Linked DNA regions of Homo sapiens. The protein of the gene in region 2 interacts with the protein of the main gene of each other region in a pairwise test. Each region holds a gene or a part of one and is shown on either strand. Other genes may lie near its edges.

Region 1 (7,368 bases), on a different chromosome or scaffold from region 2:
TTTAGCTCCTCAGTTCTTTTGGTACCTAGGAATATAAATATTGGTGTATGTGTACATATATTCTTAGATATTCCAAAAAGCAGAGGGGCCAGTAGGCAAGAGGGTTGATGAGTCTTGGATAGGTGACAGTGGAAAGAAAGATGAAGAGGATGTGGAAGTGAGTGTCAAAGAGGGACGGTATATGTGCTTACTAGAAGCAATTGCAAAATTCTAGCCAGGTCTCAATTTCAAGTTTGTCACTTTAAAAAAAGTAGCTGCTTATAATTTTCCTTAGTGTTCTCCTGGCTGTTTTTGTTTTTGGTGATGGTGGCTAGTTGTTTTTTAGTTGAAATCTAAATGCAGAAAAGAAAAATGCCATTAATTGATAATTACCAATATATTGTTTTCATTGTTGCTTTTGTCAGTGCTTTGTGGGCATTTTTTATATATAGCATTGTTCCAAGCTATACGGCATGAGATGAAGGAAATATAGTAGTTTGGTCCTGCGTGCCTGGCTGCCTGTAAAGTTTGCCTACCTTTTGAATGAGTTTTCTGTTGCTGCATAACAAATTTCCCCAAACTTAGCAGCTTAAAACAACAGACATTTATGATCTCACACAGTTTCTGAAGTTGAAATCTGGGGACAGCTTGGCTGGGTGCTTCTGGCTCATGGTCTCTCCTGAGGTTGCAGTCATCTGAAGCTCGACTGGGACCAGAGGATCTGTTTCCAAAATGGCACGTTCACATGGCTGTTGGCTGGAGGCCTCAGTTCTACACCATGTGGGCCTATGCACAGGGCTTTTCACAACATAGCTTTTCTCCCCAGAGCAAGTGATCTGACGGGGGTGGGGAGAGAGGGAGAGAATGAATATGATAATGATCAAGATGGAAGCAGCAGTATATTCGTGGCTGATATGGTTTGGCTGTGTCCCTACCCAAATCTCACCTTGAATTGTAATCCCCATAATCCCCATACGTTGTGGGAGGGACTCGGTGGGAGGTAATTGAATCATGAGGGCAGTTTCTCCCATACTGTTCTCCTGATAGTGAGTTCTCACGTGATCTGATGGTTTTACAAGCGTCTGGCATTTCCCCTGCTGGCACTCATTCTCTCTCCTGCTGCCCTGTGAAGTGGTTCCTTCTGCCATGATTGTAAGTTTCCTGAGGCCTCCCCAGCCCTGCGGAACTGTGAGTCAATTAAACCCCTTTCCTTTATAAATTACCCAGTCTCGGATATTTCTTCATAGCAGCATGAGAACAGACTAATCCAGTGTCTAATCTTGGAGATGGCATACCATCCCTTCTACCAGCATTCAGACCAGACCTGGCACAATGTGGGAAAGGACTACAAGAGGGGAGGTCAGGGCACATCAGTATTCTTGGAGGCTAGCCACCACAACTTTTTTAAGGTTTAGTCCAGACATCATTGAGAAAATCTTTCTTTCAGATGTTTACTGAAGTATACTGTAGGAGATGGAAAGACAGCTGAGGTCTTTAGTATTGTAGAAGCTTTAATACTATATGTGAAACTTTTATGTTCTTTCTTCCGGTTCTTTGTTAGATGCTGGAATTAGCCAAGTATGCAGTAGCTTTGGAAATAGAAATTCAGATCTTGCTGGTCCCTAAACCAAAAGGAACATCTGAATTTTTTTCTTTAACCCCAAAACAAGTTGGTAAAAAAATATTGCCAAAGTAATCTCCTTTGATGAATGGCTTAAAATTAGTCATTCATTATCTGTGTGTTCTTAAAAATAAAACTCATTGGCAAAGTAGCTGAAAAATTTTGGGGAACCTAAACCCTCTTACTCCTCCCCATTATTTTAAAACTTTGGATACTGCTTGTTTGCCTAGCAGTTCTTCAGTTCACTTTTGAGACCCTCATACATTTTAATTATTGACCTGGATAGAAGGGCGCTATTCTTTTAGCTCCAGATGAAATCTTCCTGAAGTGCCTATAGGTGGAGAGAAGAGTTTCTGGATCCTGAGCCTGAGCCTGGCTAAATGACCTCTAAGTCCCTTCCATCTCTGAAAATTCTATGATCCTTATTTTTTTTTTATAACGAATATCCTTTGAGTTGTGCATATTTATAACAAAATATTTCATTGATCATGTTAAATTGCAACCTCAGAAGACAAGCTTTTCTGAGAATAGCTTTTGTTCTTCCCAATCCAGTTGAAGGTTGTTAGAGTCACTGTTAGGCAGAGTTGAAAAGTCAGCACTATTTGCACTTCCTCTGCTTCCTATTTTTGGCCCCTTGCCCATCCTCTGCCCTAATTTATGAGCTAGTATCTTTCTTTTCTTTCATTCTACTTTCCTTGTAATCCCCCTCCTTCCTCCCACAGGAAGGATTGGTGGCCAGTCCTTTACTGCTGATAGCTGATGCTATTGTTAGGAATGAATTTTAGCCAATGTGTTACCTCTAGTAATACTTGCATGGCAAACCTTTTAAAAATCTCAAATTATATGTGTTCATGTAGTAAACACTGCCATTTTTTAACATCCTAAGTAGCCCTAAAATTTAGTCACTTTCCTCATGTGCATTGTTGTCTCCTTAGTCCCCACCGTGTTGCCGGCCTGGCCTGGTGCATACCCACATCTGCTCTTGACCCCTCTGTTTTTCTACTCTGTAGCCAGAATTACCTTTTCAACATTCAAGCCTAATTATGTTACCCATTGACTTGAAACACTTCAGTGGCTTTCCAGTGCTTTCAGTCAAAGGTCCCAAATCCCTCAACTTGGCCTACACTGGGGTCTTGAATGATCCCGCCCTTCCTTACCTCCTCAGTGTCATCTTGTACTGGGCTCTGCCTCTTTCTCTCTGCTGCAGATAGCTGTGAAGGTCTTTCTCGAGTTTCTTGAGTGGACTTTGCTTCCTCTTGCTTCAGGCCTTCCTGAATGCAGTGTGTGTGTGTGCAGGCACGCGTGATTGGGGGTGGGGGAGTGTGGAGGAGTCCTAGGTAGGAAAGCGCTTGGCACATTCACAGGGCTGGAAGAAGGCAAGGAAAAGGCCACGGAGGCCACGGCCAGTGGAGGGTTTAGCTGCCGCTCATGGTGAGCCTTTAAGGAGCGTTAAGCACAGTTTCATGTGCAGTGTTAGAAGCCCCATTGGAAGGGCTGTGTGGAGAACAGATTGAAGAGGGGCTGGAGTGGTAATGAGGGGTCACTTAGGAAGCTGGGGCTGTTGAATGAATGGTGGCAGAGAAGATGGAAGAAGTGCATGGCTTTGAAATGTATGTTGGAGATGGAATAGCTAGAAATGGTCATGAATTGAGCTGGGGAGAGGCAATGGGAGTCAAAAATGACTTCCAGGTCCCTGGCTTTGGTAACGATACGGATACTAGCGTGTCCGGAATTGGTGGGTTCTTGGGCTCACTGACTTCAAGAATGAAGCCGCGGACCCTCGCGGTGAGTGTTACAGCTCTTAAGGTGGCACGTCTGGAGTCTGTCCCTTCTGATGTTCAGATGTGTTCGGAGTTTCTTCCTTCTGGTGGGTTCGTGGTCTCGCTGGCTCAGGAGTGAAGCTGCAGACCTTCGCGGTGAGTGTTACAGCTCTTAAGGTAGCGCGTCTGGAGTTGTTCGTTCCTCCCGGTGGGCTCGTGGTCTTGCTGGGCTCGGGAGTGAAGCTGCAGATCTTCGCGGTGAGTGTTACAGCTCATAAAAGCAGCGTGGACCCAAAGAGTGAGCAGTAGCAAGATTTATTGCAAAGAGTGAAAGAACAAAGCTTCCACAGCGTAGAAAGGGACCCCAGCGAGTTGCCAATGCTGGCTCGGGCAGCCTGCTTTTATTCTCTTATCTGGCCCCACCCACATCCTGCTGATTGGTAGAGCCGAATGGCCTGTTTTGTCAGGGCGCTGATTGGTGCGTTTACAATCCCTGAGCTAGATACAAAGGTTCTCCACGTCCCCATCAGATTAGTTAGATACAGAGTTTCCACACACAGGTTCTCCAGGGCCCCACCAGAGCAGCTAGATACAGAGTGTCAATTGGTGCATTCACAAACCTTGAGCTAAACACAGGGTGCTGATTGGTGTATTTACAATCCCTGAGCTAGACGTAAAGACTCTCCACGTCCTCACCAGAGCAGCTAGATACAGAGTGTCGATTGGTGCACTCACAAACCTTGAGCTAAACACAGGGTGCTGATTGGTGTATTTACAATCCACGAGCTAGATATAAAGACTCTCCACGTCCCCACCAGACTCAGGAGCCCAGCTGGCTTCACCTAGTGGATCCCGCACCGGGGCTGCAGGTGGAGCTGCCTGCCAGTCCTGCGCCATGCACTTGCATTCCTCAGCCCTTGGGTGGTCGATGGGACTGGGCGCCGTGGAGCAGGGGGTGGCGCTCGTCGGGGAGGCTCGGGCCGCACAGGAGCCCATGGAGTGGGTGGGAGGCTCAGGCATGGTGGGCTGCAGGTCCCAAGCCCTGCCCCGTGGGAAGGCAGCCAAGGCCCGGCGAGAAATCGAGCGCAGTGCCGGTGGGCCAGCACTGCTGGGGGACTCAGTACACCCTCCGCAGCCACTGGCCTGGCTGCTAAGTCCCTCATTGCCCGGGGCCAGCAGGGCTGGCTGGCTGCTCCGAGTGCGGGGCCCACCAAGCCCACGCCCACCCGGAACTCCAGCTGGCCCGCAAGTGCCGCACACAGCCCCGGTTCCTGCTCGTGCCTCTCCCTCCACACCTCCCTGCAAGCCGAGGGAGTGGGCTCCGGCCTTGGCCAGCCCAGAAAGGGGTTCCCGCAGTGCAGTGGGGGGACTGAAGGGCTCCTCAAATGCCACCAAAGTGGGAGCCCAGGCAGGGGAGGTGCCTAGAGCAAGCGAGGGCTCTGAGGATTTCCAGCATGCTGTCACCTCTCACTAGTAGTGACTTCAGTAGCTAATAAATGGGGGATAGTGAAGGAGCAGATTTTAAGAGGGAAGAATCAAGAATTCTATTTTGGGAATAAGTTGAGAATCTTGTGGCAGCCCAGTGGGCAGGGGCAGCAGCAAGGCTGTGAGCCTGGGGCCAGGAGAGCGGTCAGGGCTGCATCCTCAGGTTCGTAAGTTGTCTGTACAGCCACTGGGCTGTATGTGGTGCAGATGAGGAGGGAGCAAGACTGAGCTCCGAGAAGTGCTGACATCTAGATGGGGAGGAGGAATGCCTGGCAAGTGGCGCCGAGAAAGGGCCCAGAGAGCCACCCGGGAAGCACTCAGCCTGTGGGAGAATGTGGGCTGTGGAAGCCAGGAGGGATGGCCTCAGGAGGGGGACGCTGGAAGGGGCCCTATACAGGCCTGCTGCGGGCCTTCCCTTTCCAGGCAGCGTTTTGTCACTCTTGCTACTTGCTCATTTTAAAGAGGAGGAGGGCATGGGAAGGAAGAAAGAAGAGTTTTTATTGGAGCTAGCTACGTGGAGTTTGTGGGTGATCTTGATCTCACAAATTTCTGTGAGCTTATATTGGGAGGAAGTTGGATTGGAATGGTTTCCGTAAATAGTGAGGGAAGGAAACAAAGGCTTTTGCTACACAGTGTGGGGTCTGTGGGTCAGGAACATGATTAGAGACTAGGTTAGTGGTGCCAAATCTTGGGCTCCACTCCAGACCTACTGAATCAGAATATGCGTTTTCACAAGATTCCCAGGTAAACTATGCATTAAAGTTTGAGAAGCATTAGCACAGATAATTCCTATAGAGGAATTGTGTCATTAGCTAGAAGGATATATGGGGGTCAAAGGCACACACGCATGTGTGAATCTTTAGGGTGAAGATTCAATAGAACGTGTCTACATGCTGTTGGGGATGATCCTGTAGCAAAGTAAAGACTGATTGATGCTGCAGGAAGAAGGGTAGTGGTAGGAATTAAGTTCTTGGGCATGGTGGTGGTGGAGGGCTTGGCCTTTGCTAAGAGCAGGAATGTGTACTCCATGAGGCTGGAGACAAGGAGAAGAAGGGCGTGGAAGGTTTGTAGATTTGTTGAAGGAGCTCTGAGGGAGTTAGGGTTTGATGGCTTGGTGTTCTCTGGGACAAATGAGGTTAGGTTATCTGTCAAGAGTAAGCAGAGGGAGGGCACAGGGGAGAGTCACAGCGAGATTACTAGGAAGTGTGGGGGAATGCCCATTCGTGGTTTGTGATCATAAGTGCATTGAGAGTGGAGTGCTGGGAGGCTGCTTTCTTGAGTTTCTTTCCCTCGACAGCAGCATTTGCATGCTGGGTGCAGGTGCTGAAAACAGTGAGTGAGATGGAGGGGAAGGGAGCAGGGAGATGAGGTATCTGCAAGAGGGCTTTTCTCATGTCAGGCTTTGGGATCTAAGCTGGTGAAGGGAGGCAGTGCAGCCCAGAGGGTCTTGTTATGCAGAGAGAGAGTGCTGGAGGCCAATGCTTGCAGGTGTCAAGAGGGCAGAGAATTGTGTGTGGGGGTGGTATTTGAACAAGTGAGCAAGAAGGATGGAGGCTGAGGCTAGAGGGTTAGAGGAGATAACTGTTTCTGGTGACGGTGAAGTTCAGGTAATGACCATGATAATGTTAGATAGAAGGAAAGAAAGGGTTTTCGGAGAAGAGAGGATCAAGGACTTGAGAGGGGCCGAGCTTGGCTGGGACATCCACATGCACAGATGTCATTGGGGAGGACGACAGGAGTTGGGTAGAATGGAAGTCTGCAGACCAGAAGCAGATGTCCTCAATAAATGAGGGAAGTGACCAGGAAGTCTGTAGCTGATAGTAACAAGGTGAAGGACAGGCTATTATGGCTGGAAAGGCCAGGCCTCAAAGGTATGGGGGCTTTTGTAAGACGGATGGGGCTAACAGAGGTACTGAAGTGCAGGTGACATTGGGGAGGGAGGAAGGACACATATCTGGTCTGTCTGGCCCTGAAGCACATGGCATGGGAGGAGAAATAGCATCTGCTTGATGTGGTGTCCCCAGGGCACACCCAGGTCTCAGAGCTAGAAGGTAGAGGAACATTCTTAGAAGAGGTGGAGGCTCTCGAAGGGTTTGCTGGTGTGCCTGAGGTTGCAGGGACCAGGTGGGTTAGCCATTTCAGGAGATGGATGCAGTTCTGTTGGGTTGAGAGCCCTAGTCATAGGAAAGAGTGGGGACACCTGCACTTCTGGTGGTGACTGTTCAGGACAGATGTTCAGCAGTGTGCTCCCCTTAAGAGGAGGGTGGTCCTGTTCTAGCACCGTAGTTCCCAAACGTGGCTGGGGAGGTGGCAGCTTCCTTGTGTGATCCTCTCAGCCTTCACATACTGACACAGCAGGGAAGAGAAGGCAAGACTGTTTCTGTTAGAGCCGTTTCGGGAGTTGCTGGGGAGATTTAGGACAGGGACATCCTGAAATGCCCATTGGTTATGCCTCTAAGGCAAATTACGCTGTGTTTTGGGTGATGAAGAAAGAAGGGTGTGAAGGGCTTCTGTTGATGAAAA
Region 2 (7,000 bases):
GAAGGCAGCAAGACAATCTTGCAAGGTTACTACTGGACCCCAAAACCAGCTAGGGACACATGAGACAACAAACCTGAAACATCATTGATAGAAAAAAAAGGAAGTGTTCTGCCAGTACAGCAGAAACAGCAGGTTTAACAATCATGTAATACAAAGAAAATAAATACATACCTCTTCACATATTCCATGAAAAAAGCTATCCACCCTTGTGGAGCATATGCTTCGCCACATGATCCTGCTTTGACTATAGAAGTTGGATGACTTGATGAATGCAGCTTAGCAAGGTCTTCCTTGCCAGGAATTGGCAAGGACAGATCTTGAAAGGTCTCGAGGGTTACAGACACCTAAAATTGTTTTGTGTTTTAAAAATGGGATGAACATAATGCAGTAAAACATTTCCAAGGTTAGATTTTAGACTCTAAAGATCAAAGCATGTTTAAATAAGCAAAAAAAACAAAAAACAAAAAAAAACACGCAAATTGAACTGCTTTCATAGTCATAATAGCAAAAAAAAAAACAAAAACAAAAAACAAAACACACTTGCTCTGTACCAGGTATCTTCACGTAAGTCCTGTGCAGTAGTATTAGCATCCCCATTACAATCACAGACACTGCAGCATTAAACACCCCAAATCCAGCCACTGCATCTTGAGGTCCAAACTCTTAAGCACTATTGTATTTATTTTTGAAAATTGACCTTTGATGGTAGTTTTAAAATATTTTTTTAAAAGGGTGAGACAAAATCTGGCATCTAATTTTAAATAGCTAAAAACATGCCTGATAATTCCACTTAAATATTTAGTACCAAAATAACCTACATTAAAACGACCCGATTGAAAGTTCTTAGATTTGACTTGAGATTCTAACACAATAATTGAAATCTTCTTTTTGTTTTTGAGATGTTATTTCATATTCATCATTGCACTAAAGTAAAACTGTACTTAAGAAAAGCTCAAAGAAACTTTGAAGAAGTGTTATTAAAAAATTCATGATGATTTTAATGTATGCTTTGTTATTGTCTATGAATTTGATACTACCTTTAGTATCTGAGTCCCATCCTAAACATGGAAAAATATTTACAAACCATATATGACCAAATGTAAGAGATACATTCACAGCTTTGTACCTGTGAATATCAACAGATTCCCAGTATACAAATTTCATCAGCCTGGGAGAATATGCAGGTGTTACCAATTCTTGTTGCTGAGCAACTTCTCACCTTTATATGTAACCAAAATAGATGACGAAGGATAATATGTGCCTGTCCAATGATGGGTCACCATCCTTTAAACAGGATGCTGCTACTTCCAAAAAAAATTCTACACCTAGAATCAAATTTGTGTTGATGTAAACACAATAAATGCATGTATGCTCATCAATAGCAAAGAGAAGGAATTAAACTTTTCACATCATCTTGTCACATTTTTAAAAATCATTTGACACGAATTTTCTGTGTATTCTAATACCCTCATACTCACCCTGTCACAAGTCAGACACTGCACTGAACTAATGATTGTTCCATCAAATATGTCTGAAATAACACTTCTGTATTTCTTGTGCTGTTTTTTTCTCTTTGGAGATGCAGACTGAGCTAGGATTGAAAAACATTAAAAAAAAATCAAAGCAGCTCCTTTAACATTTTTCTCTGGAATCTTTTTTTGTCTTGTCAATCTTACTTGTATATGATCTCTAGAATCCTTAAACTGTAAAAATTACTGTGTTGAAAATTTTCAAAATACTCTTCAAAAGAGCATAAGTATTAAAAAAATAAAAGAAACTAAGCAGACAAGGCTTAAGATATTTGTTGTTTTTTTTTGTTTTTTTGTTTTGAGGTGGAGTCTCGCACTGTTGCCCACACTGGAGTGCAGTGGTGCGATCTCGGCTCACTGCCAAGTTCTGCCTCCCGGGTTCATGCCATTCTCCTACCTTAGCCTCCCAAGTAGCTGGGACTACAGGCGCCCACCACCACGCCCAGCTATTTTTTTGTATTTTTAGTAGAGACAGGGTTTCACCATGTTAGCCAGGATAGTCTCGATCTCCTGACCTCATGATCCACCCACTTCAGCCTCCCAAAGTACTGAGATTACAGGCGTGAGCCACCGCACCCAGCCTGTTTTTTTTTTTAAAGTATAAATGATCCTTGGCCACCATAAATGTACATATGAGAAAATGAACAAAATTCTAAATTAGCACAAAACCACAAATGCTTCATCACTGGGATGTTTACTTAAATGTTTTACAAGTCAAAAGAAGAGGGGAAGAGGTTAGAAAGTGAGGGAAAGATGATGAAAGTCATCATCAAGCTAAAGATGAAATAGAAGGGGTTCGGTCTCCCTATCCTGACTTGAGAGCAATTCTGTTTTCACTTATTTGTTTTTGTCTCCAGGTAAGGCTTTATTTGAAGAAAAGATTCTATTATTTAAAGTTTTTAAGAGTTCTTTATATATTTCTGGATACATGTCCTTTGCTAGCTATATGATTTATAAATACATCCAACCTTATCTTTCCATTCTCTGAATGTCCTTTGTCAACAAAAATCTTTAATTTTTTTCTTTAATGGATCATGCTTTTAATGTCTTTAAGAACTCTTTGTCTAACCCAAGGCCATGAAGACTTTCTCCTATGTTTTCTTCTAAGAAAACATAATACTGGAACTCCCATATATACCTGGAAGGAATACTAAATGGTAGACACTCTGGTAAAAAGTCTGGCAGTTTAATACAACTATAAGCATTAAACAAACATAAAACCCAGTAACCCCACTTCTAGGTATTTGTCCTAGACAAATGAAAAAATGTTCTTACAAAAACCTATACATAAATTTTAGAGCAACATTATTCATAATTGCCAAAAATTGGAAACAATTCAAAAGTCCACCAGTAGGTAAATAAACAGTGGTATACCCATAAAAAATGAGATATTAGGCCGGGCATGGTGGCTCATGCCTGTAATTCTAACACTTTGGGAGGCAGAGGTGGGGAGATCACAAGGTCAGGAGTTCGAGACCAGCATGGCCCATCTCTACTAAAAATACAAAAAATTAGCCAGGCATGGTGGCGTGCACCTGTAGTCCCAGCTACTCGGGAGGCTGAGGCAGGAGAACTGCTTGAACCTGGCAGGCAGAGGTTGCAGTGGGCCAAGATTGCACCACTGTACTCCAGCCTGGGCGACAGTGAGACTCCATCTCAAAACAAAACAAAAAAAAAGAAACATTACTTGGTAGTAAAAGGAACAAACTATTCAGACACGCAGTAACATATCTGAATTTCAAATGCATTATCCTGAGAGGCAAACCTGTTTCAAAAGACTACATATGAAAAGATTTAAAAAAATCAAAAGACTACATACTATATGATTTCATTTATATGACATTCTAGGAAAAGGCAAAACAATAAGAAAAGAGGATCAAGGGTGCCAGAACATAGGAATAGAGAAATGATCTGATTACAAAGTAGTACTATGCAGGAATTCTTTGGGGTGTTAGAGCTGTTCTGTATTCTGTTTGTGGTGGTGGTAACAAGAATCTATGCTGCAAGTGTTAAAATTCATAAAGCTCTATACAAGAAAAAGTGAATTCAACTGTATGTAAAATTTTAAAAGCAGAGTACCAACACACAAAATTTTTAATCATGTCTATGTAAAATTATGCTATCAATTTTAAAAGATCAAATCATATTTCATAATTAACACTTTAAATTATCAAGTACCAAAACCATCATTTTAAACTAAGACCCAAAGCAAAAGAGACTGAATAAGAGAAACGTTTTACCTTTTTTGTGTGGTGGTGCCAATCCTGGCCACAAATTGCCTGATTTAGGAGGGCTTGCCGATAAACGTGGATTAACACCTTCATTTGATGGAAGGATCTGTGGTGTAGACAGGTCATTCGAATGGACATCAGTGATATATTCTGTAAGATTTAAAATTTGCATTATTACCTTAAATAGTAAAATTATTCTAACTGTCCAATAATGTTAAAGGTTTCTTAATTTGATATTTTGAACACAATCATATTAACAAATGTCAAGTTAAATACTTAACAAAGTGCTTACTAAGCAAAATAACAGTAATCTTCTACCCAGAAATCCAACTAATTTTTGTTTACTTGTTTTTTTGAGACAGAGTCTCCCTCTGTCCCCCAGGCTGCAGTGCAGAGGTGCGATCTCAGCTCACTGCAACCTCCGCATCCTGGATTCAAGCGATTCTTCTGCCTCAGCCTCCCAAGTAGCTGAGATTACAGGCATGTGCCACCAGGCCCACCTCATTTTTGTATTTTTAGTAGAGATGGGGTTTCACCATTTTGGCCAGGCTGGTCTCAAAGTCCTGGCCTCAAGTGATCCACCCACTTTGGCCTCCCAAAGTGTTGGGATTATAGGCATGAACCACCGTGCCCAATCCCAACTAATGTTTATAACACACGACTATTACAGGCAGTTTAGGAAGTGAGCAGTGGAAATACAAAGCCAAAGAGGATCTTGTTTGTCCAAATATAGCATTAAAAAAAAAAAAAGAGGCTAGGCTGGGTGGCTAACGCCTACAATCCCAACACTGGGAGGCCAAGGTGGGAAGACTGCTTGAGCCCAGGAGTTCAAGACCAACTGCGCAACATCATGAGACCCCCATCTCTACAAAAAAATCTAAAAATTAGCTGGGCATGGTGGTGTACACCTGTAGTGCTGGCTACTCAAGAGGCTGAGGTGGGAGGATCACTTGAGCCCAGGAGGTTGAGGCTGTGGTGAGATGTGATCATGCCACTGCACTCCAGCCTGGGTGACAGAATGAGACCCTGTTTCAGGAAAAAAAAAAAAAAAGATATTCAGGACAGGTTTTTAGAAGTTCTAAAACCATGTGAAAGAAAAATCGATTATTCTCCCAAACTAACATAATAATCAAAATCAAGAAATGTAGGTATAAAGTAATCATAAGTTATTTTATCTTACTATAATAAAAAATACACCACTTCATCAGGAAAGAATCTTTTTTTAGAATTAAATTATAAGATGAATCAAGAAAATATAAGAGCTACCTTGATTGTTTGCTTTGGATTCCTAGTGCCTAACATATTCCAGGGCAAGGGAATGTGCTCAGTAACTATTTGAGTGAAGAAAAGAGAATTGTTCGTAAGAGATCTGGAAAGGGGATGTACTCAGAAATTTTTCCAGATAATGCAAAATCATTTTTCACACAGGCATTTCTCAATATTTCAATCATGACTAAATCAGACTGCATAATATTGGGAGTGAAAAAACAACTCACTCTAGGACTTTCTGAAGGGAATAAAGTTAATGAGATTTAGATGGGGAGTTGGCAATTTTTTCCTCTAACGGACCAGAGATGAAGTGTTTTAGGTTTGTGTGCCTTACAGACTTCGCCAGATTTTTTTCATCAAGCCCTTAAAACACCTAAAAGCTCAGACTCCTGATTTAGGTCATCCCCTTGTTACTATGTGTAAGAACAAACCTGTTACAGAGCAATCAAAGATGAGTATGTCCCTAATCAGGCTTAACTGGGCTTTTGACAAGAAAAGCCTGGACAGCAGTCAAAGCTAAGTCTTTCAATACTGATACCTGACATATTTATTCACTAACAACTTCTACACAAGATCAGTATAATTAAGGAGCCTAACACTCCTAGTCTTCCCGATTAGAAAGCATCTGTGCACTTTACCCAAGTGAACCACAAGTCTTCCTATAGTTAATAATATTTTCAAGAAGAAATTTTGGATTCATTCAAATACCTAAATAAATTGCTTAGTTACTCTCACTCTTCAGTAATTACAGAAAATAAACTTTTTTACATTACATGTCTGCCACTTATTTTAAGATCACATAATTTGAACCTCTAATGGCCCAATTTTGTGTGCTTTGGAAAACTACATACCACATTTTAAGCCAAGATAAGTTAACTCTTGAAGAGATAAATTACAAAGCAATTCAACTTTCATTTGGCCACATGCTCTTTCTCAAAGGAACACTGACTAGTATCATGGCATAATCTATCACAGCAGGGCTCACTATAGTTAATTCAACTTCTACACTAAAACACATCTGATGTGACTCCAATGACAACAATCTAAATCTACTAGTGTATATAATTAGAAAATTGCAATTTGGGTTATTTGCTTTTTTCCAGGATCGCAACATAATTTGCTTAAAATAAAAGAGAAAATTCTGGGGAGCCCAATTTTTTAGATTACTGCATGACTACACAAAAGACATCTGATGAAATGTTTACTTCAAAAGGAGGATTAATTTCTTATATAATTAAATGACCCAAAAAATTCCTTTTATCCTCGGGTTCTATAATTTTATGACTAATACTCACATGCAAATACTGCTAAACTATAATTCTAATTAGAAATACCCAAAGTAACAATTATTTAAACACCCATGTCTACAAATGAAATACTATCATTTTCATGAACAAACTACTAAATTGTCACCTGAAGCTCTGCTGTGTATTTGCACTTTGACAGTTTCCTGGTTGTTTAAGTCGACTGTTTCAGATATAGAGTCTCTATCTTTATCAAATTCGCCTTCAGAATTTACTTTATTAATCTTATTGCACATCTTCTCTTTTTGCCAATCCTTTGACATTTCTGAATTGTTTTCATCATCCTGAATTAACATTGTTGTTTCATTATTATCTTCAGAAAAGCATCTAGAGCCATTTTCATTTTCTGCTCTATCACTGTTGCTACAAGATTCACAAGACTGAAAATCTACATCCGACTGGCTCTTGTCTTCTTCCATTGTCTCCTCAGTGGTTATGGTTTGCGGATCTTCTTCTACTTCCATGACTTGCTCTTTCAATTCTTCATGAAGCAAATCCATTAAACATCGAAGGAATTCTTGAGCATCCTAATATATCAGCAACATAATGTTAACCACTTCATTACATGTGTATATAGAAACGTAAGGGAAAATATACAAAATGTCATTACAAACTTATATATGAAGGTACAGCACTATATTGAGCAAATACCAGTTTGGAGAGCATA

The links. The genes of interacting proteins can lie anywhere in the genome.
Region 1: the proteins of USP33 (region 2) and RALB interact in a two-hybrid assay, tested with the Homo sapiens proteins (one study listed by BioGRID).

Annotation. Positions count from the first base shown.
Region 1 is NC_000002.12:120,255,487-120,262,854, forward strand, and holds part of RALB (ras-related protein Ral-B), read left to right. Parts: intron 1-7,368. UniProt on the Homo sapiens protein: Multifunctional GTPase involved in a variety of cellular processes including gene expression, cell migration, cell proliferation, oncogenic transformation and membrane trafficking.
Region 2 is NC_000001.11:77,721,853-77,728,852, forward strand, and holds part of USP33 (ubiquitin carboxyl-terminal hydrolase 33), read right to left. Parts: intron 6,861-7,000; coding exon 6,443-6,860; intron 3,911-6,442; coding exon 3,770-3,910; intron 1,592-3,769; coding exon 1,479-1,591; intron 345-1,478; coding exon 172-344; intron 74-171; coding exon 1-73. UniProt on the Homo sapiens protein: Deubiquitinating enzyme involved in various processes such as centrosome duplication, cellular migration and beta-2 adrenergic receptor/ADRB2 recycling.